Linked DNA regions of Homo sapiens. The protein of the gene in region 3 purifies or fractionates together with the protein of the main gene of each other region. This does not show direct contact. Each region holds a gene or a part of one and is shown on either strand. Other genes may lie near its edges.

The links. The genes of interacting proteins can lie anywhere in the genome.
Region 1: the proteins of SMARCD3 (region 3) and DPF2 purify together in Homo sapiens (affinity purification with mass spectrometry; 5 studies listed by BioGRID and IntAct, with this or other methods). This does not show direct contact.
Region 2: the proteins of SMARCD3 (region 3) and BCL7A purify together in Homo sapiens (affinity purification with mass spectrometry; 5 studies listed by BioGRID and IntAct, with this or other methods). This does not show direct contact.

Annotation. Positions count from the first base shown.
Region 1 is NC_000011.10:65,329,030-65,336,852, reverse strand, and holds the start of DPF2 (zinc finger protein ubi-d4), read right to left. Parts: upstream 3,002-7,823; 5' UTR 2,967-3,001; coding exon 2,935-2,966; exon of another isoform or gene 2,258-2,934; intron 1-2,257. UniProt on the Homo sapiens protein: Plays an active role in transcriptional regulation by binding modified histones H3 and H4. Is a negative regulator of myeloid differentiation of hematopoietic progenitor cells. Might also have a role in the development and maturation of lymphoid cells.
Region 2 is NC_000012.12:122,017,693-122,024,884, reverse strand, and holds the start of BCL7A (B-cell CLL/lymphoma 7 protein family member A), read right to left. Parts: upstream 3,002-7,192; 5' UTR 2,794-3,001; coding exon 2,702-2,793; intron 1-2,701.
Region 3 is NC_000007.14:151,245,681-151,253,449, forward strand, and holds the start of SMARCD3 (SWI/SNF-related matrix-associated actin-dependent regulator of chromatin subfamily D member 3), read right to left. Parts: upstream 3,015-7,769; 5' UTR 2,883-3,014; coding exon 2,805-2,882; intron 1-2,804. UniProt on the Homo sapiens protein: Involved in transcriptional activation and repression of select genes by chromatin remodeling (alteration of DNA-nucleosome topology).

The sequences.
Region 1 (7,823 bases), on a different chromosome or scaffold from region 3:
TCCCAAAGTGCTGGGATTACAGGCATGAGCCACCGTGCCCGGCTTCTTTTTTTTTTTTTTTTTTTTTGAGATGGAGTCTTGCTGTTGCCAGGCTGGAGTGCAGTGGTGCGATCTTGGCTCACTGCAACCTCTGCCTCCTGGATTCAAGTGATTCCCTTCCCTCAGCGTCCTGAGTAGCTGGGATTACAGACACACGCCACCATGCCCAGCTAATTTTTGTATTTTTGGTAGAGTGGGGTTTCGCCATGTTGGCCAGGATGGTCTCAATCTCCTGACCTTGTGATCTGCCCGCCTCGGACTCCCAAAGTGCTGGGATTACAGGCATGAGCCACCGCGCCCAACAGCCTCTTTCTTTTTTTTAAGAAAGAGTCTTAAAAGTGTCACTCAGGCTGGAGGGCAGTGGTGTGATATCAGCTCACTTCAACCTCTGCCGCCTGGGTTCAGGCGATTCTTGTGCCTCAGCCTCTCAAGTAGCTGGGACTACAGGTGTGCGCCACCACACCTAACTAATTTTTATAGTTTTAGTAGAGATGAGGTTTCACCATGTTGGCCAGGCTGGTCTCAAACTCCTGACCTCAAGCAATCTGCCTGCCTCAACCTCCCAAAGTGTTGGGATTATAGGCGTAAGCCACTGCACCCAGCCAAGACTTTCATTTCTGACATCACATTCGGAAGGGATAGAAATTTACAAATAAGAAAATTCTTTTCCCAGGACAAGATGCAAGTCATACAAGATGAGGGGCCGGGCGTGGTGGCTCACGCCTATAATCCCAGCACTTTGGGAGGCCGAGGCGGGTGAACTCCTGAGGTCAGGAGTTCAAGACCAGCCTGGCCAACATGGTGAAACCCCATCTCTACTAAAAACACAAAAATTAGCCAGGTGTGGTGGTGGGCACCTGTAATCTCAGCTACCCGGGAGGCTGAAGCAGGAGAATTGCTGGAACCCGGGAGGCGGAGGTTGCAGTGAGCCAAGATCGTGCCACTGCATTCCAGCCCGGGCCGACAACAGTGAGACTCTGTCTAAAAAAATAAAAAAAAAGAAAAGATGAGCTAGTGGTCCTGACCTCAATGTACTCAATGTATAACATCAGCTGTCAGAAGACTAGGCACACTATAATCAAGAGAAGTGCCATATCTCCAAATGAACTGGAAGAATAGAAGCCCCTTCTTAAAGGGATAATTCTGTGGGAGTACGTATTAATTGTGATCTGAGGCCCTGTGCAGCTAGAAATGAGGAGGAGAGAGTTGGTTTCTCATTACTGGCATTCAGGAATTAGTGGCTGGTGATGCTCACAATCTCTACAGTTTTTCAAAGAGAAACAAGATGTCACGCTCTGTTTAAATGGGCAACCCCTCACTTATGACACAACTTGAAAGCACTGGCAACCCTATTTCTCTGAGGAAAATCTTCCAACACGAAGAACCTCACTACGTTTAACTCCCAAAACCTAGGCAAGTCTGATACTCCCCCAGTACAATGAGAATCTTCCTTTTTATTTTTGGAGAAACCTGTGTAAAACATCCCCTTACAATGGGATGAGGGAAGTCAACAAAGACGCAGGGAAACAAAGAAAGAACATCTGAGTCAGGAAGGATAACTGGATAAATGGTAGATCAACAGTGTCATTTCTAAATTGAGAAAAATGTCAGCCTGAAGAAAGAGCTGGGGAAACTGGAGTGGGCAGATCAGAGAGAAAGACAATAGCGTTGGGAGGAGGGGTGGCTGAAAGAGACAGCAGGATAGAGCAGAAAGCAACTTAAAAAAAAAAAAAACAAACCACAAGAGGAGGAAAGGCACTTAGCTTAATGGAAGTGGGAAAGCATTCTCAAAGAAAAGGCTTCAGGCAGGAGGGAGAAGCAACTTACTCTTTAAAAAGGCTCTTAGGAAGAGTGGGGCTCAGGCCACGACAAAGACAGATGAGAAGCTGTGAGTCCCTTAGAAGAGTTACCGAACCTTTACCTCGTCATCCAGTCAAAATGCAAAAACCCTGACTGGACAGCTAGACACCACTCAATTTTCCCACCCTTGCACCAAGCCCAACATACCCATTAAAAGAAGCTCTATTCGCCCACCATGCATTAACCCAATCTAAAACTCATTCTGATTCTTCTGTAGGAATAAATCAAGTCCCAAAGCATCTTTAACTCACAGGAAGCAGTTCATAGGCCAGCGTCCATGGCCCCAACAGCTATTAACTTTAACTTTGCTTGAAATCTGACCAGCACAATGGTATCGTATAATAGGAAGAATGCCCACCTAGATGCCCCTTTAGGCTAAGCTGTCCTGAACGGCTTCGGTCCAGTTGCAGGTTTTTGATGGCTGCTACTGGACGGGGCCAAGGCCCACTCCCCTGAAGTTCCTTCCCTTCTGGATCCGCTCCTCGATAAATTCTTCCCAAGAATATTTGTAGTCTTAGGTACCTGCCACCCAAGATCCTCCCAAACATCACGGGGCTGCCTGGAACTGAAACAGCCAGCCCCGCAGTGCACTCCGCAGGGGCCGCCGAGCCTGTTGCTGCAGCGAACGGGACGGGACGGGGCGGGGTGGGCGGCGGGCCAGCCGTAGGGCCGCCCGGGCCTCGGCCCCGCTCCTCCGGACTGAGGCGTCTCGGGAGAGGACCGGGACGGTGAGTCTCGCGTGCAGGCAGGGCGCCATGCTCTGGAAACCGTCAGCCCCGAGGAACGCTGAGGCCACACAGCCCCGCAGGGATGCCGCCCGTCGGGGCTCCAGTGTGCCCCCACCAGGGCCTCCACAAGTTTCCAAAGAAGCGCAACGTCTTCTCCGGAGTCTCCTGTTGCCCTCCCCACCAGGAGTCGCAACATGGCTTTCCCGGGGATGTCCCTCTCTCCGCCTAGTCCCTTCCCCCACCGCCCCCTACTCCCAGGCCCTTTACAAAACCTGCCGCCCTAGGAGAGAAAGAAACGACCACTCACAGCTTCACTACATTCTCCACCACAGCCGCCATCTTCCCTGTTCCTCTGCCTCGGGCCGAGAAGCCCCACAGTCCGCAGCGCGCAGGCGCCGGGACCGCACCGGGGTACCAGGTTCCTTGCCCTCTGCGCAGGCGCCGTCCGGGCGCGCGCACTAGAGCGAGCACTGAAGAAAGAGCTTTACGCCTGTTCGCGGGGGCCGGGTAGGAAATGCGTGGACCCCACGGGAGCCCGACGCGCAGGCGCAACCGGAGATTGGCATGCATCCCGGAGCTCCGGTTCGAGGCTTGCCTCTAATATTTAGAGGAGCAGGAGCCGGGGCCGGGCGCGGTGGCTCACGCCTGTAATCCCAGCACTTTGGGAGGCCGAGGCGGGCGGATCACGAGGTCAGGACATGGAGACCATCCTGGCTAACACGGTGAAACCCCGTCTCTACTAAAAATACAAAAAATTAGCCGGGTGTGGTGGCGAGCGCCTGTAGTCCCAGCTACTCGGGAGGCTGAGGCAGGAGAATGGCGTGAACCCGGGAGGCGGAGTTTGCAGTGAGCCGAGATCGCGCCACTGCACTCCAGCCTGGGCGACAGAGCGAGACTCCTTCTCAATAAATAAATAAATAAATAAAGGAAAAAAAGAAAAAGAAAAAAGATTAGCTGGGCATGGTGGTGCATGCCTGTAATCCCAGCTACTAGGGAGGCTGAGGTGGGAGGATCACTTGAGCCCAGGAGTTTGAGGCTCCAGTGAGCCACTGGAGCCACATCACTGCACTCCAGCCTGGGCAACAGAGCGAGGCTCCATCTCAAGAAAAAAAAAAAAAAAAAGGAAAAAAAATATATATACATATATATATACACATATATATATACACATATATACATATATATATATACACATATATATACATATGTATATATATACATATGTATATATATATATATATATATAAATATAATCACTAAAGCTGAAAATACACATACCCTATGACCCAGCAAAGTCCACTCCTGGATATACACACAAGAAAGCTGTACAAGAAGCTGAGTGCAATGCCTCATGCCTGTAATCCCAGCTACTTGAGAGGGTGAGGTGGGAGAATCACTTGAGCCCAGGGGTTCAAGACCAGCCTGGGCAACATAGCAAGATCCTGTCTCTTAAAAAAAAAAAACAAAAAAAAACAGGCCAGGAGCATTGGTTCACGCTTGTAATACCAGCACTTTGGGAGGCCACGGTGGGCGGATCACGAGGTCAGGAGATCGAGACCGTCCTGGCTAACATGGTGAAACCCCATCTCTACTAAAAATACAAAAACAAAATTAGCCGGGCATGGTGGCGGACGCCTGTAATCCCAGCTACTGGAGAGGCTGAGGTGGGAGAATGGCGTGAACCTGGGAGGCGGAGTTTGCAGTGAGCCAAGATCGCGCCACTGCACTCCAGCCTGGGTGACAGAGCGAGACTCCGTCTCAAAAAAAAAAAAATAAAGCTGTACAAGAATGTTCGTAACAACATTATTTGTTTATATTTATTTATTTATTTATTTTGAGACGGAGTTTTGCTCTTGTCGCTCCTTAACAAATTCTTCCTTCCAGCCCAGGCTAGAGTGCAGTGGCACTATCTCAGCTCACTGCAACCTCCACCTCCTGGGTTCAAGTGATTCTCCTGCCTCAGCTTTCCGAGTAGCTGGGATTACAGGTGCCCCCAGCTAATTTTTGTATTTTTTGTAGAGACAGAGTTTTACCACGTTGGCCAGGTTGGTCTCGAACTCCTGACCTCATGTGTTCCGCCCGCCTAGGCTTTCAAGTGCTGGGATTACAGGCATGAGCTACCACGCCTGGCCAGCTGATGTAACCTTTTCTTAAACAATCCTAAAAGAACTGAAAGCTATTGATGCTGGGTTCATAAGCTGCCTTTCCAATTATATGCAGCTAGCCTATTTATTATTAGTACTATTTTTAAATTCAAACTTTTAATTGAAATATACATAAAGAGAAGCACATAGATCTTATGTAGCTTGACTAATTTTTTTTTTTTTTTTTTTGAGACGGAGTTTCCCTCTTGTTGCCCAGGCTGGAGTGCAATGGCGTGATCTCGGCTCACTGCAACCTCCGCCTTCCGGGTTCATAGCTTGACTAATTTTTTTCAATTTTTTAATTTTTGTGGGTACATCGTAGGTGTATATATTTATGGGTACACGAGATGGTTTGATGCAGGTATACCATGCAAAATAATTGTAGCTTGATTGATCTTTACAAAATAGACAAACCTGTGTAACCACTACCCAGATGAAGAAAAAGACATCACTAGCACCTCAGTAGCCATCTCATGCTTCTAGCCCTAAAGATTAGTGTGTCTGTGTAACTGTATGTCAATGGAATCATACAATATGTCCTATTTTGAATTTGGCTTCTTTTGTTCAATATTAATTTTTTCCTTTTTTTTTTCAGCCCCCACAATGCTTTGTCTACAGTATTACATTTTTGAGATTTTTTTTTTTTTTAAGACAGGGTCTTACTTTGTCATCCAGGCTGAGTGCAGTCGTGTAATCATGGCTCATTGCAGCTTCGACCTCCCAGGCTTAAGTAATTCTCCCACCTCAGCTTCTCGAGTAGCTGAGACTACAGGCACACCACTACACCCTGACTAATCTTTTTTTTTTTTTTTTTAAGACAGCGTCAGCCAGGCATGGTGGCTCATGCCTGTAATCCTAGCACTTTGGTAGGCCGAGGCGGGTGGATCATGAGGTCAGGAGTTCGAGACCAGCCTGACCAACATGGTGAAACCCCGTCTCTACTAAAAATACAAAAAAATTAGCTGGGCGTGGTGGTGTGCGCCTGTAATCTCAGCTACTTGGGAGGCTGAGGCAGAAGCATTGCTTGAACCCAGGAGGCGGAGGTTGTGGTGAGCTGAGATTGTGCCGTTGCACTCCAGCCTGGACAATAGAGCAAAACTCCGTCTCAAAAAAAAAAAGACAGTGTCTCAAAAAAAAAAAAAAAAAATCTCAGTGGCACAATCTTGGCTCACTGCAACCTCTACATCCCTGACTCAAGCAATCCTCCCACCTCAGCCTCTCTGGGACTATAGGCACACGCCACCATGCCCAGCTAATTTTTGATTTTTTTTTTTATAGAGACAGGGTCTCACTATGTTGCCCAGGCTGGCCTTGAGCATTCCTTGCGTTCTGGCCTCCTGAAGTGTTGGGATTACAGGCGCGAACCACCATGCCTGGCTGAGATTCATTCATGTCCTTTTGTGGTAATAGTTCTTACATTGCTGTTTAATCCATATTACTGCTGATGGGCATTTGGGTTATTTCCAGTTTGGAGCTATTACACATAATGCTGTTACGGGCTGGGCGTGGTGTTTCACGCCTGTAATCCCAGCACTTTGGGAGGCTGAGGCTGGCAGATCACTTGAGGCCAGGAGTTCGAGACAAGCCAGGCCAACATGGTGAAACCCAGTCTCTACAAAAAATACAAAAGTTAGCCGGGCGTGGTGGTGGTGCCTGTAATCCCATCTACTTGGGAGGCTAAGGCATGAGAATCGCTTGAACCCAGGAGGTGGAGTTTGCAGTGAGCCAAGATGGCTCCACTGTACTCCAGCCTGGGTGACAGAGCAAGACCCTGTCTCAAAAAAAAAAAAAGAAAGAAAGAAAGACATGTTACGTCGCCGAACAACAGGTACTCTCTCTATATAGAAAACAGTATATATAGTGTTTCTCTGACAGACAGGAATCACGGAGTAGGAATTTTACATGCACATTCTTGGAATCTCAACTCTGCGCTCTGGCTGATTTAGAGCTTTTAAGACCCAAGGGAATAATGCTTCCACCAGGGGGCGCAGTAAGTTTCTCTAAATCACGATCAGATCGTCCGTCAGTAGGCCATATTTCGCTCCACATGCCACTGGGCAAGAAAATAAAAAGCGGGTCCCACTGTTGGCTGGGGCGATCAATTCCAATTGTAAAGCTTAAGATTGCTATTACCCAGTGGGGGCAGGGAGAAAAATCCGAGGAACTCCCCTGGGATGGCTCTTAATATTTTATTCGGGTAGGTAAGGGGAGATAGGCTCCTGATTAGATACTTGATTCCAACCTTCCCTCTGAAGACAAATTAAAAAAAGAAGAGGAAGTGAAAAAAAAATCTTAAAAGCATTGAAAAGCTAATAGTACAGTGAAGAATTATTGTGCCAACATTGAGGAAGCTAAAACCCAGAGAGGTAAGTTCAGCTTTTGAAGCAGTTTTTGTCCTGGAGGCATTTACTGATCTGGAAGATATAACCATGAAGTTAAACTGTTGTTTGGCAGTCTTTGTGGGGAGGGACGAAAATAAAAACCCAGAGCTTGCTCAAAGTAGGAAGTCAGATACCCCACTACTGACACGTATGTGCTGTAAGATACAAATCAATTTCCATGGACTTATAGTTCAGAATCCTATTATCTGTTTGGTCCAGGAAAGGGGGAGAGGAAAGCTCAGCCTTGAACTTGGATTAAGGTGGACCCATTTTTTTTTTCTTTTTTTTTTTTTCTGAGACGGAGTCTCTGTCGCACAGGCTGAGTGCAGTGGCACGATCTCGGCTCACTGAAGCCTCTGCCTCCCAGGTTCAAGCAATTCTCCTGCCTCAGCCTCCTGAGTAGCTGGGACTACAGGCACGAGCAACCATGCCCAGCTAATTTTTTATATTTTTAGTAGAGACGGGGTTTCACCATGTTAGCCAGGATGGTCTCGAACTCCTGACCTCATGATCCACCAGCCTTGGCCTCCCAAAATGCTGGGATTACAGGCGTGAGCCACCCCTCCTGGCCCAAGATGGACCCATTTTTGAAATGTTCCCAGTTACCTGACAAAAGCAAGCATATTTGGTACCAAGTAACATCCTTCCTGAAGGAATGTACTGTAATCCTA
Region 2 (7,192 bases), on a different chromosome or scaffold from region 3:
TGGGGCCAAATGATCTGCCAAACACTTCGGCTTCCCTCTGGGTAAAATACAGGGTGCCCTGTTAAATTTGCATTTCAGATAAATTAGATAATGTTTTAGTATAAGTGTGTCCCAAATATTGCATGAGACATACTCAAAAACATTTATTTTTAAAAAAATCTTTCATTGTTTATCTGAAATTCAAATTTAACTGGGTGTGCTGTATTTTTATCTGGTTAAACCTGGCAACCCCACCCCCCCACCAGTGGTGAAATGCATGGTTGGTGACCACACAATTAATAAACAACCCACAGTCTCATGGGCTGAGTCTAAGACCCAATCCGAAGGCGCGGGGAAGGTGAGATATGGCTTCTCAGGGGCCAGAGAAACCTGGGCAATAAGTCCAAGGCTTTCGCTTAGAAGGGGCCAAAAAAAAAAAAAAACAAAAAACCTCAAAGCCAAGTTTCTACAAAGTCCACCTTACAACACAGACAACACTGAGCAACAGCTCCTCCTGCGCCCAGGGCGCGGTGCTCTCGGAGGCATGACCTCAATCGTCCTCAATAACCCGAGGGGACCTGGAAGCCAAGCACAAAACCCCGGGTCACCATGGTTAGAGAAGTGACAATGATATGCCCAAGGTCGCGGCAACGAAGTGAACTGGAAGCTGGACCATGAGATCCCAAAGCCTGAGGTCTTCAGAGGACACGATGTGTTGTTTCCCCAAACCCAGGGAGGCGCAGAGGTACAGCCCCTCAAGCTCCAACTACAGGCCTGGTCCCCGCGGGGTCAGCGGGCTGGAAGGCCTCCAGGCCGGCCGCCCCGGGGCCCGCGGGGTGGGAAGCCCCATCTCTCCATCTGCCCTCCCTGCAGAGCAGCTGGCCGCTCTGCGGGAGCAGCTGTCAGGGTGCAGGAGCCTCTGTCCAGCCGGGAACCTGGAGTAGGAGGCCCCACCACGCCTCCTCGAGCAGAGAAAGGCGGCTTGCCGGCTGTTTCCCAACCTCCAGGCCGGCGACAGAAGGGACCCAGGCACAGACACCAGTTCTTTCTTTGCACAGGGGCTGAGGCAAGGAGGGGAGCAACTCCGGGCTTCCCGCGGGGAATCCCACAGTAGAGGGGGCTGCGGGTTGTTTTCCAGCGTGTGTGTGTTGGCCTGCAGCTGTTTCTGCCATTTTTAAATGGCTCCAGTCGGGCACCGGGCACCCTGTGTACCAGGGGAGCTCCCGAGACACCGACGACTTGGATCTCAACTTTGGAAAGCCTCCCCTTCTCACGGTTCTGAAAATTCTTTGTCCCACTGGAGCCAAACCCAGCCCACGGCCGGGCATCCGGCCATCGCAGCCAGCCCTTTCCATAGGAGGCCGGGGAGCACGTGGACTTTATTGATTTTCCTCTTGCCTTTTTTGTTGGGTTTGACTCAGAAAGGACAGCTAACTTGTGACACCGCCACACCGGAGGCTCGCCCCCAGTGGCTTTTAGAGACCGAGGCGCTACTCGAGAAACGACACCCCCAAACGTAAACATCCCCTGCCACAGGGCCTGCCCAGCTTCCAGGCTCGAAATAAAGGGTCGAGACGAGCCCGCGGGCGCTGACACTCAGAGCCAGCGTTGCGGCGGCTCCTCTCCCTCCGGGACCCCAGTGAAGGCGTGGGAAAAAAATAATAAAGTTGAAATCAGGCAGCGGGGAGTTTTCAACAACTCTGACCCAACCTGGCGATCTGCTTGCGCCTCGGGCCTGGCCCAGGGGCCGATTCCGAGCAGACCCCGACGAGGCCGCGGAAAGGTTCGATCCCCTTAATGTCGACCGGGCCACGCCGGGCGGACGCTAATGTGATCCCGAAAACCACGCGCGGCCGCCACCAAGTCCCCCTCTCCCCGGTGCAGAGAACAAAAACAACAGCTCCCTCCGCAAAACAAACACGAGCTCCCGGTGTGGAGAGGCAGCCGCGGCCCAGGACGAACGGCTTCTGGCCAAAAACATCGGCTGGCCCGAGCCCCCCGCCCGGGGCGCCGCGCAGAGCGGGGTGGGACGTGGGCGCCCCGCGCCCCTGGCCGCTGGCTCCCAGCGCTCGCCCCCATCTTTCCTGGTCGCCGAGAGCCCTCGCTCCAGGCAGCCCAAAGCGCTAAATTTAAACGGCTCGCGCTCTGCAAACTCCGCAGACTCGAGGGCGCCGGGCCCGGGAGGCGGGAGCGGGCGGCCGGGCGGGCCGGGGCTGGCGGAGGGCGGCGGGGCGCGGGCCGGGGTGCGCGGGGAGGAGACGGCGGCGGCGGCCCGCTCGGAGCCTGCACAATGGAGCTCGCGCTCTCCCCGCCGCCGCCGGCATCGCGGCCCCGGCGCGCGGGAAGCCGCTTTCATGTGACTTGCACAAAACGAAATGGCTTCTGGGGCCGGCCCCGAGCCCCCCTCCCGGGAGCCGAGCGCCGCGGCGGGGGCCGCCCCGCCGCTCCAACCGCCTGGCCCCGGCGCCCGCCGCCTCCGGGCCGCCGCGCCAGGTGGGCTACAGGCGCGAGCGCACCTGGGCAGCGGCCGCGGCCCCAGCCTGGCGCAGGTGACCCGGCTCGCGCGCCGCCCGCCCGTCCGCCCGCCCTCGCCAAGTCCCGGGGCCCGCGGCGGGGCTGGGCCGGGGCAGGCGGCCGGGGCGCTGCGCCCCGCGGCTCTCTGGAGCCGCGCTCGGGCTCGGGGCGGCCGGGGAGGCGGCTGGCGGCGGGCGCCTCCGCTTACCATTTGCGCACTTTCTCGATCGCCGCCATGACCCTCTTGATATCATCTTTGGCCCGGCTCCTCGTCTCGGCTCGAACCGACCTGCCCGACATGGTTCCGGCGGGGAGACGGAGGCTGGGGAGCGCGCCCGCCGGGTCCTGCTCGCGCTCCGCGGCGGCCACACTCGCGCCCGCCCGCCGCTCACTCACTCGCGCACAGACACTCGCACTCTCACACGCACACACTCACACACACACACACACACACACACACATACACACACACACAAAGCCCGGGGCCGCCGCGCGCCTGGCCCAGTGCGCAAGCGCCGGGCGGCAGCTGCACAGAGCAGGGGGAGCCGCGCCGCCGCCGCCGCCGGCAGTGCGGCCTCCGGGCGCCGCGGCCACCGGGCAGCGCCCCCGGGCCTCCTGCGCCCCCAGAGGGGACGCCCCGGACGCCCTCCTGGGGAGGTGGCGAAGGGCGCACGGCGACCCCCGGCTCTGGGCGCGCGGTGGGGGCGGGCGTGCGGACACGCGCGCTGACCCTTCCTCGGAGGCTGCAGGTGCCGAGGGGTCCATGGGAGACAGCCGGTCTGCGGGGCGCGGGGGGGTCGCGTTCCCCGGGAGCCAGCCCAGCTGCCCCTGCCCAGCCCCCAGAGCGCGGCGGCGGGTGCAGTCGTGCAAGTTTCTTGCGGGTCTCTTGACTTCTCCGAGTTGAAGGCACCGGTTCGGGACGCGAGGTGCTCTTGGAAAGAGTTGGGCATCGCGCATCTCTGCTGGCCCGCGGCCCTGTTCAAATGCGAGCTAGGACGTCGCCTGCCCCAGGCTTTGTCCTTTTGGAAAACTAGGGTTGTAGGAAGGTGCCTGGTGCCAGGCAGACCACCAGAGACTCTCGACCTTGAGTACTAAAGAGTTTTCTGCTCAGCAAAAGCTCAATGATGATCAGCATCGTAACAGGGACTCTTCCTCCCGCCCCCAGAAGTTCTCTTGTCATAAACAAGGCGAGGGGGTCTTCGCTGAGCTTCACCAGAGGACCACGATTTCACCTTAAGCCATTCCTGACTTCAGTACCAGACTGAGACCAGGCGCTGCTACTGCCCAAATGACCCCTGGTCCCATCTACAAGGAGCACTTTTGAGGCCTCAGAACAGAGCCCCGGGGAGAAATCTGCGATGATCAGGGTAACCTGGGTGCCGCATCTTGCTGTTCAGCTGCAGCGGAACCGGCCGGACCAGAGCTAATGCGCGCCCAGAATGAAGAGGGAGACCGAGAGTGGCCCAAATGTCAGCGCCCCGGGCCTGGAGATGACAGCCCGACAGCAGCCATTTCACAGCTGGGGAAACTGAGTCCTGGGAAAGTTTAAGGTTGCAGCCTTAAGTTGTTACTCATTCTAGACGTTTCCCCTGAGGGTTTGGTCTTTGGGGAACACGCTACTGTGGAAATGGAGAGACCGCAGGCCTTTTCCTAGGCATTTGTTTTTACTATTCTGAAACGCAGTCTCCTGACGTGAAAAATGAAGAAAAGAACAAATACTGGCCGGGCGCGGTGGCTCATGCCTGTAATACCAGCACTTTGGGAGGCCGAGGCGGGTGGATCACTTGAGGTTAAGAGTTCGATACCAGCCTGGCCAACATGGTGGGTGAAACCCCGTCTCTACTAAAAATACAAAAATTAGCCGGGCGCGGTGGTGGGCTCCTGTAATCGCAGCTACTCGGGAGTCTGAGGCAGGAGACTCGCTTGAACCTGGGAGACGGAGGTTGCAGTGAGCAGAGATCCAGCCACTGCACTCCAGCCTGGGAGACAGAGTGAGACCCTGTCTCAGAAAAAAAAAAAAGGCCGGGCGCGGTGGTTCATGCCTGTAATCCCAGCACTTTGGAGGCCGAAGTGGGCAGATCACGAGGTCAGGAGTTCGAGACCAGCCTGGCCAACATGGAGAAACCCTGTCTCTACTAAAAATACAAAAATTAGCTGGGCGTGGTGGTGCAGGCCTGTAATCTGAGCTACGCGGGAGGCTGAGGCAGGAAAATGCTTGAACCTGGGAGGCAGAGGTGCAATGATCATGCCATTGCACTCCAGCCTGGGCAACAGAGCAAAACTGAATCTCAAAAAAACAAAACAAAACAAAATAAAACAAAACAAAACAAAAAAAGAAAGAGAGAAAGAAAAAGAAAAAAAAGAGAAAGAGAAAGAAGGACTTCAGAGAATCGTTCCGAGAATTTTCTGGGAAAATATGCAACAGCAGGTCATAAAACAGATCTCACAGAGATATGTGAGATCAATAGGTATGTGCTTTGGGCCACATGAAACTTTAAAAAAATGTATCTTAAAATTTAAAATAGGAAAATATTATGTCAGAATTCAAATAGTGACTGAGGAACAGATAAATGTGTCTATCCACACAATGGAATATTATTCAGCCATAAAAGGGAATGAATACATGCTACAACATGGGTGAACCTTGAAACACGCTAAGTGAAAGAAGCCAGTCACAAAAGGATAAATATGCGTAAGTCCATTTGCGGGAGATATCTACAACTAGGCGAATCCATAAAGACAGATATCAGATTGGTGGTTGCCAGAGGCAAGGGGGAGGGAGAGCAGGAGTGACTGCTAACGGATGTGGGGTTTCCTTTCGGAGTGATAGGAAAGTTCTGGAATGAGATAGTGGTGATGGTTGCAGAACAATGTGAATGTACTTAATGACGCTGAATTGTACACTTTTAAATGGTTACAATGGTCAATTTTATGTGTATTTGATCATAATAAAAAGAAATCTAGGCTGGGCGCGGTGGCTCACATCTGTGATTCCAGCACTTTGGGAGGCCGAGGTGGGTGGACTGCTAGAGGCCAGGAGTTTGAGACCAGCCTGGGCAACATGGTGAAACCCCATCTCTACAAAAAATTCAAAAAATAGCCAGGTGTGGTTGTGCGCATCTGCAGCCCCAGCTGCTCAGGAGGCTGAGGTGGGGAAGATGGCTTGAGCCCAGAACGTAGAGGCTGCAGTGAGCCAAGATCATGCCACTGCATGAAGCAAAGAAAGAGAGAGAGAGAGAGAGAGAGAGAAAAGAAAGAACGAAAGAAAGAAAGAAGAAAAGAGAGAGGGATGAGGAGAAGGAGAGAGGGAGGGAAGGAAGAAGGAAGAAAAAGAGGGAAGGAGGGAGGGAGGAAGGAAGGAAGGAAAAAAAAAAATACCCAGCTTCTCTAGAACCAGCAGATCTGCAAACTGGACCCTCAGTGCCACATGGCACCCATCGGCTAGAGCAGAGAGCTCTGTCTGTATCTTTCAGACAGAGTTATCTGGGTCACCAGTGCACTCATAGCCACTTTACTCATTTGTGTTACCTGTCTGGCCCCTGAAAGTATTTGTGATTTTGATCCCCAATAAAACCATAAAGCTTTCTTCAAATGTCCTTTGTAAATCTAGTATGTCACTTTTAGTAGTTTCCTGTCTCCTGCAGGTATTTTTACACTTCTTTCTTTCAACAAAGCACAGTAGTTTTACAGCCTGTGTCTGATGATTCTAGTATTTGAAGTCTCCAAGAGTCTGTTTCTGCTAGGTCTTGCTCATGGTGTCATAGTTCCTTGTTATATGCCTGGTTCTCTTTGACCATGCTGGACACTATTTTAAAATTTATTCATAGGGATAATTTGAGGCCTCCCCCTAGAAATAATTTATATTTGCTTCTGCCAGGCCCCTCAGGTCACTGCTAGTCTGGGGTGACCTCAATCCTAGTTCAGGGTTTGTGAGCCCCCGACCACTCAGGTGATGCGAATCCTGGCCGCATAGTTGTGCAAGACTGGTTGACTTCTTGTAGTCTGAGGGTGGAGCCAGGGATGTGCTGCAGATGGTTTACAGGCTTCTGCTTCCCAGCTCTGTGTTTAGTGACCTCATGCTGAGAGTTTGGAATCAGCTGTGGAGGGAGTATTTACACCATGGAAATCGGCAAATGATTTATACATCAGGACCCTCCTTCCCCAGCCCCAGCCAGAGCTGGTGGTTGAACATTTACCAGCATACCATTGGTGGAGTCCGACAGGGCCCAGATTATCGTGGGAAAGGACTCCCGCTTAGTGTGAGTCGTGGATTTTAATTTTCTGGCCTTTTTTTGATTGAGACGGAGTCTTGCTCTGTCACCTAGGCTAGAGTGCAGTGACGTGATCTCAGCTCACTGCAAGCTCCGCCTCCTGGGTTCACACCATTTTCCTGCCTCAACCTCCCAAGTAGCTGGGACTACAGGCGCCCGCCACCACGCCTGGCTAATTTTTTGTATTTTTAGTAGAGACGGGGTTTCACCGTGTTAGCCAGGATGGTCTCGATCTCCCGACCTCGTGATCTGCCCACCTCAGCCTCCCAAAGTGCTGGGATTACAGGCATGAGCCACCGCGCCCAGCCTTTTTTTTTTTTTTTTTTTTTGAAACGGAGTCTCGCTCTGTTGCCCAGGCTGGAGTGCAGTGGCACAATCTCGGCTCACTGCAAGCTCCGCCTTCTGGGTTCACACCATTCTCTTGCCTC
Region 3 (7,769 bases):
GGCGGGGGTGAAGCAGAAACGGGCGCCCGTGGGTCAGACCAGGGCCCCCCGCTCCAGGCGCGGTGAGCCGGCGTCTCCCCTCCCCCACCAGACCCTCGGCTGGTGACCCTGAGCGTTGAGCGATGGGTGGGAGCGATGGGTAGGAGGGGCAGGGGCGCCGGAATCTGCGCGGCTCTGGCGGAGGGGCTTGGCGTCTGGCTGCAGGAAGCTAACTGAAGCCAGGCACCGCACAGGGCATTGCGAGCCTCGGGGCTGCGGAAGGTACCGCAAAAATGAATATTAATGGCGCCTTTCAACCTTTCAAAGATGTTCACATCCACATGCTCCTCTGCAAGACAGCCTGAGCAGGTCCTTTCATCCCCACTTGACGGATGGGGCCACTGTGGCTCAAGGAGAAAAATGACCTCGCCAAGGTCACACAGCTCATCCTGGCCCAGGCAGCCCCTGAAGGGCTGCCTCCTGGGGGCCCAGGGCTTTGCTCTCTGCGGCTTGGTTGAGGTCCGGTACCCGGCTCCCTGCTCCGACTTCTGCTCCTCCTCCTGCTCCTCCTTCTCAGGCTCCACTTCTTGGGCGGTTCTGCCTGGTACTCACTAGCTCATCTCAGCCACTCTGCTCCCTGTGTCCCTGCTTTTGACCCTTGGGTCCCAAACCCCACTCCCCTCGGCTGACTCCAAGTCCCCACATCCAGGGTCTTCGCTGACCAAGCTGCCCCCATAATTTGCTCCCAGGGTGAGGGCTGGAGGCAGGGCAGGCAAGGGCAGCCTGCTGGGGCGCCCCAGACACAGCCAGGATTCTCTGATTGGGAGGAGGGGAACTGCGTTAGAGGTGGGCTGCCCAGGGGGGCCTGGGGTGGGTCAGGGCAGTGACACTTGCACTCACATTTCCCTTCCTGTCTGCCCAGGTCAGCAGCCACCTCCTCCTCTTCCCATCCCCACCCCAGTGAGGTCAGCAGTCAGGGTTCATGGGGGCTGTGGAGACTGAGAGGAGGCGGCTCCTCCTCCCTTGCCACTACCCCTGGGTGGTCAGATGGGGTGTAAATGAGATGCAAATGCATCGAGCGAAGTGTTCCAAACCCCACTTGTCCAGACTCCAGAAGGGAGATGGGGAGGGCCAGAGAGAGTTTCAGGGGCTGTGAAACAGAAAGAGCGGGGTGGGATGGGGACTGGGACCACGAAAGCAGGAAGAAGATCAGAGGGCAGGGGATGCAGACCCTGGCACTGTTAACATGGACACACCACCCACCTCACCCCCAGGCATGAGGAGGGGCCCCCTTGGGCTTGCTGTTTTCCTTCCAACTGCTACCTCTCCCTCCTGGTCCTCCAGGCTCTGTGTCTAACCCTAATGTCCTCCCACCCTCGGTCAGCAGCTGTCTCTGCCTATCTCTCCTGCAGTGAAACCTGCCTGTCCATGTGTCTGCTTCCCTCACCCCACCTGACCCTGTCACTCAGGCCTCCAGGGTAGCAGCCCAGAATGGAGCCCAGGCCTGGCCACCAGCTAGGTGGGGCACTGGGGCTCACAGCCACTCAAGAACTGAAGCTGTAAGTTGACCAGATTAAAAAAACAGTCCACGTGTACAGCCTCTCCCCACTAGATGGGCCTTTTTAAAGGGGCTCCCACCAGCAGCCAGGTTAGGACTGGTAACTCAGCTAGCTGACATGGACACCTTGGGAAGTTACCCCCAGGGGTCCCTGGGGCTGGAGGACAGGCCACTCCAGGGAGTCCCCCTCTTCCTGTCAGCTGCTCTCCCCAGTTATCAAGGCCAGGGATACTGGCCCATCTGCTGAAGAGGCCCTGAGAGGGAGGCTTTCAGAGCCCCCAGAGAGCTGTGCCCGCCACCAGCCCCATCCCCATGAAAGGCCAAAATCCTAGGGACTCTGGCCTTACTGAGAGGGTGTCTTCCTTGGGGTCACAACCAAATTTGGCCATAGTAAACCCGACAGCTTCCTCTACACAGGGCCTCCACTCCCTCACCCATCCCAAGAGTCGCAGCCCCTGCTTCTCCCATTCCCCACCCCTCCATACCCCTCCCAGCCGGGCCCTACTGACTCAGCTCCAGCCTCCCGGGCTCCCACGTGCCTTCACAGCCTGCCTGTGGCAGGACAGTGCTCCCCTGTCCCTTCGGTCTCTAGGCCTCATGTCCCCAACTCCAGCCCCTTCCTTCACATGTTCGAGGAGTTAAGGACATCAGCTTCTGGTGGCTGAGTCCGCCAAGGAGACCCTCAGAGCCCCTAACTTGGGCTAAGTCCCTAGAGCGGTCCTCTCCCCCACCCTAAGGCAGAAGCTCCAGAGCCCTCCCGCTGGGATGCAGAGGTGGCTCAGCCTGCGAGCTTCCCGCTACAGTGCCTCCAGGGTCACCTGCTCCTTGCTCCGGAGACACAAGCAGTGACACTGTCCCAACGGATGAACAGACAGCCCAGCCCAGCCTCTGCCATGTCCCCATCCCCCACCCCCACCCCCAGGGCAGGGGCAACACCTGGGCCCACAAGGAAAAGAACGAAAGTCAACCTGTCGGCTACAGCGAGGACCCCCTACTTGGGGGGTAGAGTCCCCAAGTCCCACCCCCGCCCCTGACAAGAGCCATGCAAACGCCTCCCTTCCCCGCCTCGCGTCAGACCCGGCCGGCCGCCTGGCGACGTGTTCGGGTGCCAGGGCGCCAGCACAGTCCCGCGGCCGGGCCGTGGGCCATGACGCCCCCCACTAGAGGGGTGGGAGAGCGGGAGCGCCCTCCCGGCCCCTCCCGATCAGCCCTCCATTCAGCCCGAGCCAGCTCGCTTGCCCTCCCCCGCTAACTTTCCCCCACTCACCACCCCATGGACCAGAAACTCAAAAAGTTTGCTTTTCGTGGCTTTGCGCGCCCCTCCGGCAACTTCGTCCGCGGCCATCGGGGTGGGCTCAGCGGCTCCTCTCACTCTCTCTCTCTCTTCCTCTTTCTTTCCCTTTTCTGCCTTTTTTTTTCCTCCAACTCTCCCCTCTGAGTCCTGCTGGGCTCTCTCACACTTCTACTCGAGCGGAGTGGGGAGGGGGCCCCTTCAGGGCTGCCCTGACGGCCCACGGCCCACGCCGCCGCCGCCCGCCCGCCGCCGCCGCCGCCGCCGCGGCTGCCGCATTCCTGCACTGATAAGACAGAAATAGTCCGGCGGCCCGGGGTCTGCCTGTTGACTCGGCGGGGACGGGGCCGCCTGCCTTTCCAAGCCCGCTGTCCAAACAGCGCAGATAAGCGGCGAGGCGCGCCGACCAGCCCGGCCGCGGGCGCTGGGCAGCAGTGCTGCAGCCCGAAGCCGCCGAGGCCCGCGGGAGGCGGCGCGGGGAGGGGACGCCAGGGGAGGCGGCGGGGGGTCGCCGGCCACCGGCTCTCGCCACAAATAGTTTCTCCGTCAGGGAATTCGCCGGCCGCGCCAGGCAGGGAACAGTCAGTTCCAACTTTTCCCCCAGCGGCTCCTGCTGCATTTCTGAGGCCCTTTCCCCAGAGACCTGGCAGGCCGAGCAGGGAAACATTCGCTGGCAGGAACCGGGGGAGCCCGGCCCGCGAGGCCTCGCGCCTGCCCGGGGCCGGCGGCGGTGGGTGTGCCCGGGCGGCGGCGTGGCCCTGCGTCCACTGCTGTGTGTGCCCTTGTCTCACACGCCGTGTGTGTCCGCGCCCTTTTGTGGCGTGGCAGCTTATGTGCGTGCAGACAGACGCCCTGTATGTGTGCCTCCCTCCACGACAGCCTCCGTGCGCGCGCGCCTGCGTGTGTGGCAGGACATGGCCTGTGCCTTTCAGCTCTGTGAGAGGCTATTTCTGGGTATGTGAGTCTTTGTTTGCCGCTCTGTGAGAAAGTGAGGGCAATAGGGGAAGTATTTCAGAAAGAGGGACAGGGATTGTGCTCATGAGAACAGGAAGAGAATGAATGTGGGGAATGGCGCAGCGCCAGGGGGGTGCTCGGGTGGGTGCGTGGAGAGAACGAGGCAAGCTGGGCTTGGTTTCCTTGGGGTGGGGGTGGAGTGGGGTTAGGGGACCCAGAGGAGTTGGGGCAGCTGGGCTGGGTATAGTGGGTATATTGGGCCGGCCTCAAGACCCCAAAGAGAGGGGTCTTGAGGCTGGGGTGTGGCGTGGGGTGGCAAGGGAGCCCCAGAAGGGGCGTGTGGAAGGAGTTGGCAGTCCCTGGAGTGGAGGAGGGACCGGAAGGAGGAGGGGCAAATCCTGACATACCCAGGCAGGGAGTCCTGGGCCTACCCAGGTCCCCAAAGGCCACGCCCCTTTTTTCTCCTTCTTGGGGAGGAGCCGTGGGCTTTGGAACAAGGCCCTTGGGTCAAGTTTGGGGGTCTGCTGGGGCCTCACTGTGAGAATCCAGGTGAGGGCAGGACCATAGCCTAGTGCCTAGGGGAGTTTGTTGAAACACTTACTTGAAGTTGGGCCCTGAAGACTGAAGGGTACTGACCCTAAACCCTTCAGAATGCCTTTGCCCAGGGGGTCCTTTCTGCCTGCAGCCTGATTTCTGCTGGCCCTGGTTGTGCTCTTGGCTGTCACTGTTCATTTAGGTGCCCACTGTCAATCTGAAATGTCAGGGAGGACATCTGGTCCAGGTTGCTCCTCCACCACCCCTAGCTTGAAAGGGGACCTAGAGATCCCCTTGCTACCAAATCTCTCCCAGGGCTTTAGCCTAGACTACCCCCCACACACCCCCACACACAGAGCCTGGGCCCTGACACGGTGGGGATGGGTGGGTGGCCTGCCTCTGTCTGCCATAGGTCATGCTGCTGGGAACCTGGGGAAGTGACTTGCCCAGTCTGCCTGCTAACCTCCAGAATCCCCGCTCACTCCCATTTCTTAGCCCCTGCCCCCGATTCTTTTACCTGGAATGCCCTTTGCCTGCCCTCTGCCTTCCCTCTGCTTGTCCAAATCACACCTATTCTTTAAAGCCCAGCCCAGGCCCCACTTCCTCCAGGAAGCCTTCCTTCGTCCTACTTGTATGCAAAGATTTTTCTCTTCTCCAAATGCTCATTGCCATCTACCCAGCACCATGAATTGGCATTGGACTGGCCTGACGTGCACTGTGCTTCAAGGACATTAGCTTTGCTTTCCCAGAGAGGCTAAGGTCCCCATAAGGTCAGAGACTGATCTTTAACTCCCACTCTTCCTCCATGCCTGGGCACAGGAACTCAACAGTACCCCAGATACCTGATGCTTGCAAAGCTTAATGAGCCAATGCATGGAGCTGGTACTCTGCCATTTACCTGATGGTGTGAGTTACCATGGGCACCCCCACCCACCATGGGTGCGTCTAGCAGGGGCATGGGAAACCACAGGCCTTGGAGGTTCTGGGGGTTGGAGATAGACACCCCTAGGCTTTGTTAAAGCTCAGTGTTCTCAACTATTGGAGAGACCTTTTGGGAAAAGAAGACAGCAGAGGAGATGCTGGGCACTCCAGTTTGGGTAGCTGGGAAGTTTGAGGCAGGGCCTGGGAGATCCCGGGCTTGGTCTTGGTGGTGGAAGAGGTTGCGGGAGGTAGTTAGACGAGGGGCTATGGTGAAGCCCCTGTGGAGGAGCTGGTGAGCTTCACCCAAGTCCATACATAAGCGCTCTCCTGAGCCACCCCTCTGGGAGACATCCTTAAGTGTACACAGACAATAGATACACCTTGCACACACACCCTCCCAACACACACACAGCAGGCACACCAATACAAGCACCAAAAGGTCGAGGAAGCCACATGGCTCTGCACACACAGGCACACCTTGAGCACCTCCACATCCCGTGGTGGGCCCCATTCACAAGGCAGGCCCAGACACATTTGCGTACTGCTTTTAGGTGGGCGACAGGAGGAGCCTTCAGACCAGAAAGCTGGGGCGGCGCCAGTGTGGGGGCCCGGGCCAGGGCTCCCTCCTCACAAAGGCCAGGATCCCCAGTGGCTTAACCCCAGAAGGGCGCTCGGTGTGCCACGCCGCCGATGGCTCCTGCGGGTGGGAAGGAGGCCCGGGAAGAGCGTGGATTCCTCCCAGCGCAATAGGGCGCCCGCCGCACTTGGGGCAGGCCGTGCGCCTGTCGGGGGCGAGGGCGGCCGCCCGGCGCCCGGCGCCGCAGTCCCCCCTGCCGTCCCCCCATCGCTCCTTCCCTCGCTGAAGCACCACCAGCACCAAATGGCAAAGCGCCGCTCCCCGCGCAGGGAGAGATGCGCCGCGGCCTGCGGGACGGGCTCGGCCGCCTCGCCCCCACCGCGCCCGAGCGAGCGGGCGGCGGCCGGGGAGCTGGGGGGGCTCGGGCCGGCCCGGCCCGCGCCGCCCCTCCCTCCGCCCGCGCCGGTCCCCGGCCTGGGCATGCGCGCCGCGGCCTCCCTCCCGGTGAAGGTCAGCCCGGGGCCCAGCTGCAGGACTCCGCGGCGGCCGGGGAGGCGGCGGAGGGAGGAGGGATGCGGGGAAGAGACTTAACTCCTTCCCTGCGGGAAGATGGCCACCTAGGCCGGGCCCCAGCCGCAGTCCCGCCCTCCTGCCCTCCGTGAAGGTCCCACCACGGGGACTCCGCTCGGGGGGCGCGGCAGGAGGAGCAGGAGAGCGGGGAACATGGAAGAAGGGGCTGGAAGGAGAGAAGAGAAGCTGGCGAGGGGATAGGGAGGAAGGGAAGGGAGGAACAAAGGAAGCGAGACTGGAGGGAGAACGGATTGCTTGGGAGAGAGCTCTTTCCTCTATTCCCTTTTCCCTACACCCCCAGCAATAAAGCTCTCCTTAGGAGAATACGATCACCCTCACTGGGGCGGCCTGAGTGAGTGTGTGTGTGTGTGTGTGTGAGAGAGAGAGAGAGCGAGAGAACGCGAGAGGAGAGGGAGAGAGAGAAAGAAAGAGAGAGGGAGAAAGTGAGACCACTTGGCGCTGTGAGGACCACAAAGCCTTGGTTTCGGTGTTCTGGCCATCTCTAAACCAGGCCCCACTTTCCGCCATCCAGCCTACCTGCCCGGGCTAAGCACCAGCCTCGGGGGACCTCTGGCTAGTCCTTGGGGTCACGCCCAGCTCCAGAGAGGGAGGAGGGGAGACTACCTCAACCCCCGCCTCTGGTGACGGTCAGCAGAGGGGACGCTCCGAAGCCAGGCCAGGGGCATCAGGCACCTTCCTCCTCCTCCTCCTGGCTGCCCCCATGCTGCTTCCAGGCCAGGGCAGCTGTGCGCTTCCCTGTTTGTGTTGGGATGTTTCTGTACCCCCGACACTCTCTGCTGCTATCAAGGGGGCTGTCTCTCTGTGTGACTTTGTCTTTCTGTGTCACTTTTGCAAACATACACGAAAGAGACAAATGCAATATATAGAAGCAAAAAACAAAGAAAAACTAGGACACCAAAATAATGGTGCGACCTTGGGCAAGTCGCTGTACCTCCCTGTCCCTCAGTGTCCTCAGAAGTGAAAGGAGAGGCTTAAGTCAGAGCATTCCTAGAGCCCTTCCAGCTCTGAAATCCAAGAATTTCCTAAGACAGAGGCAGGAACCAAGGCAGACTGGGAGGAAGGAGGGGGACAGAGGGAGGGAGCAGAGCGACGGAGCTGTGCCGGGAAGCAGACCCGCACCGAGTGAGTGGGGGCTGCTCACCATGAGTGAGGCCTGGTCCCAGCTCAGCACCCCCTCCTCTATGGGGTCCTCAGGGACGCGGCCCTCCCACTCACTCCCTCCGTCCTCCCCTCAGAGTAGCTCTCTCTGGGTGGCTCTGCCCCTGTCACGCACACCTGGCTGAGCCCTCACCCCTACACCTTCAGCATCCAGACAGCAGGGTGGGCCTTACCTTGGGGTCCCCAGGGTCCTGTGTGGCAGGCAG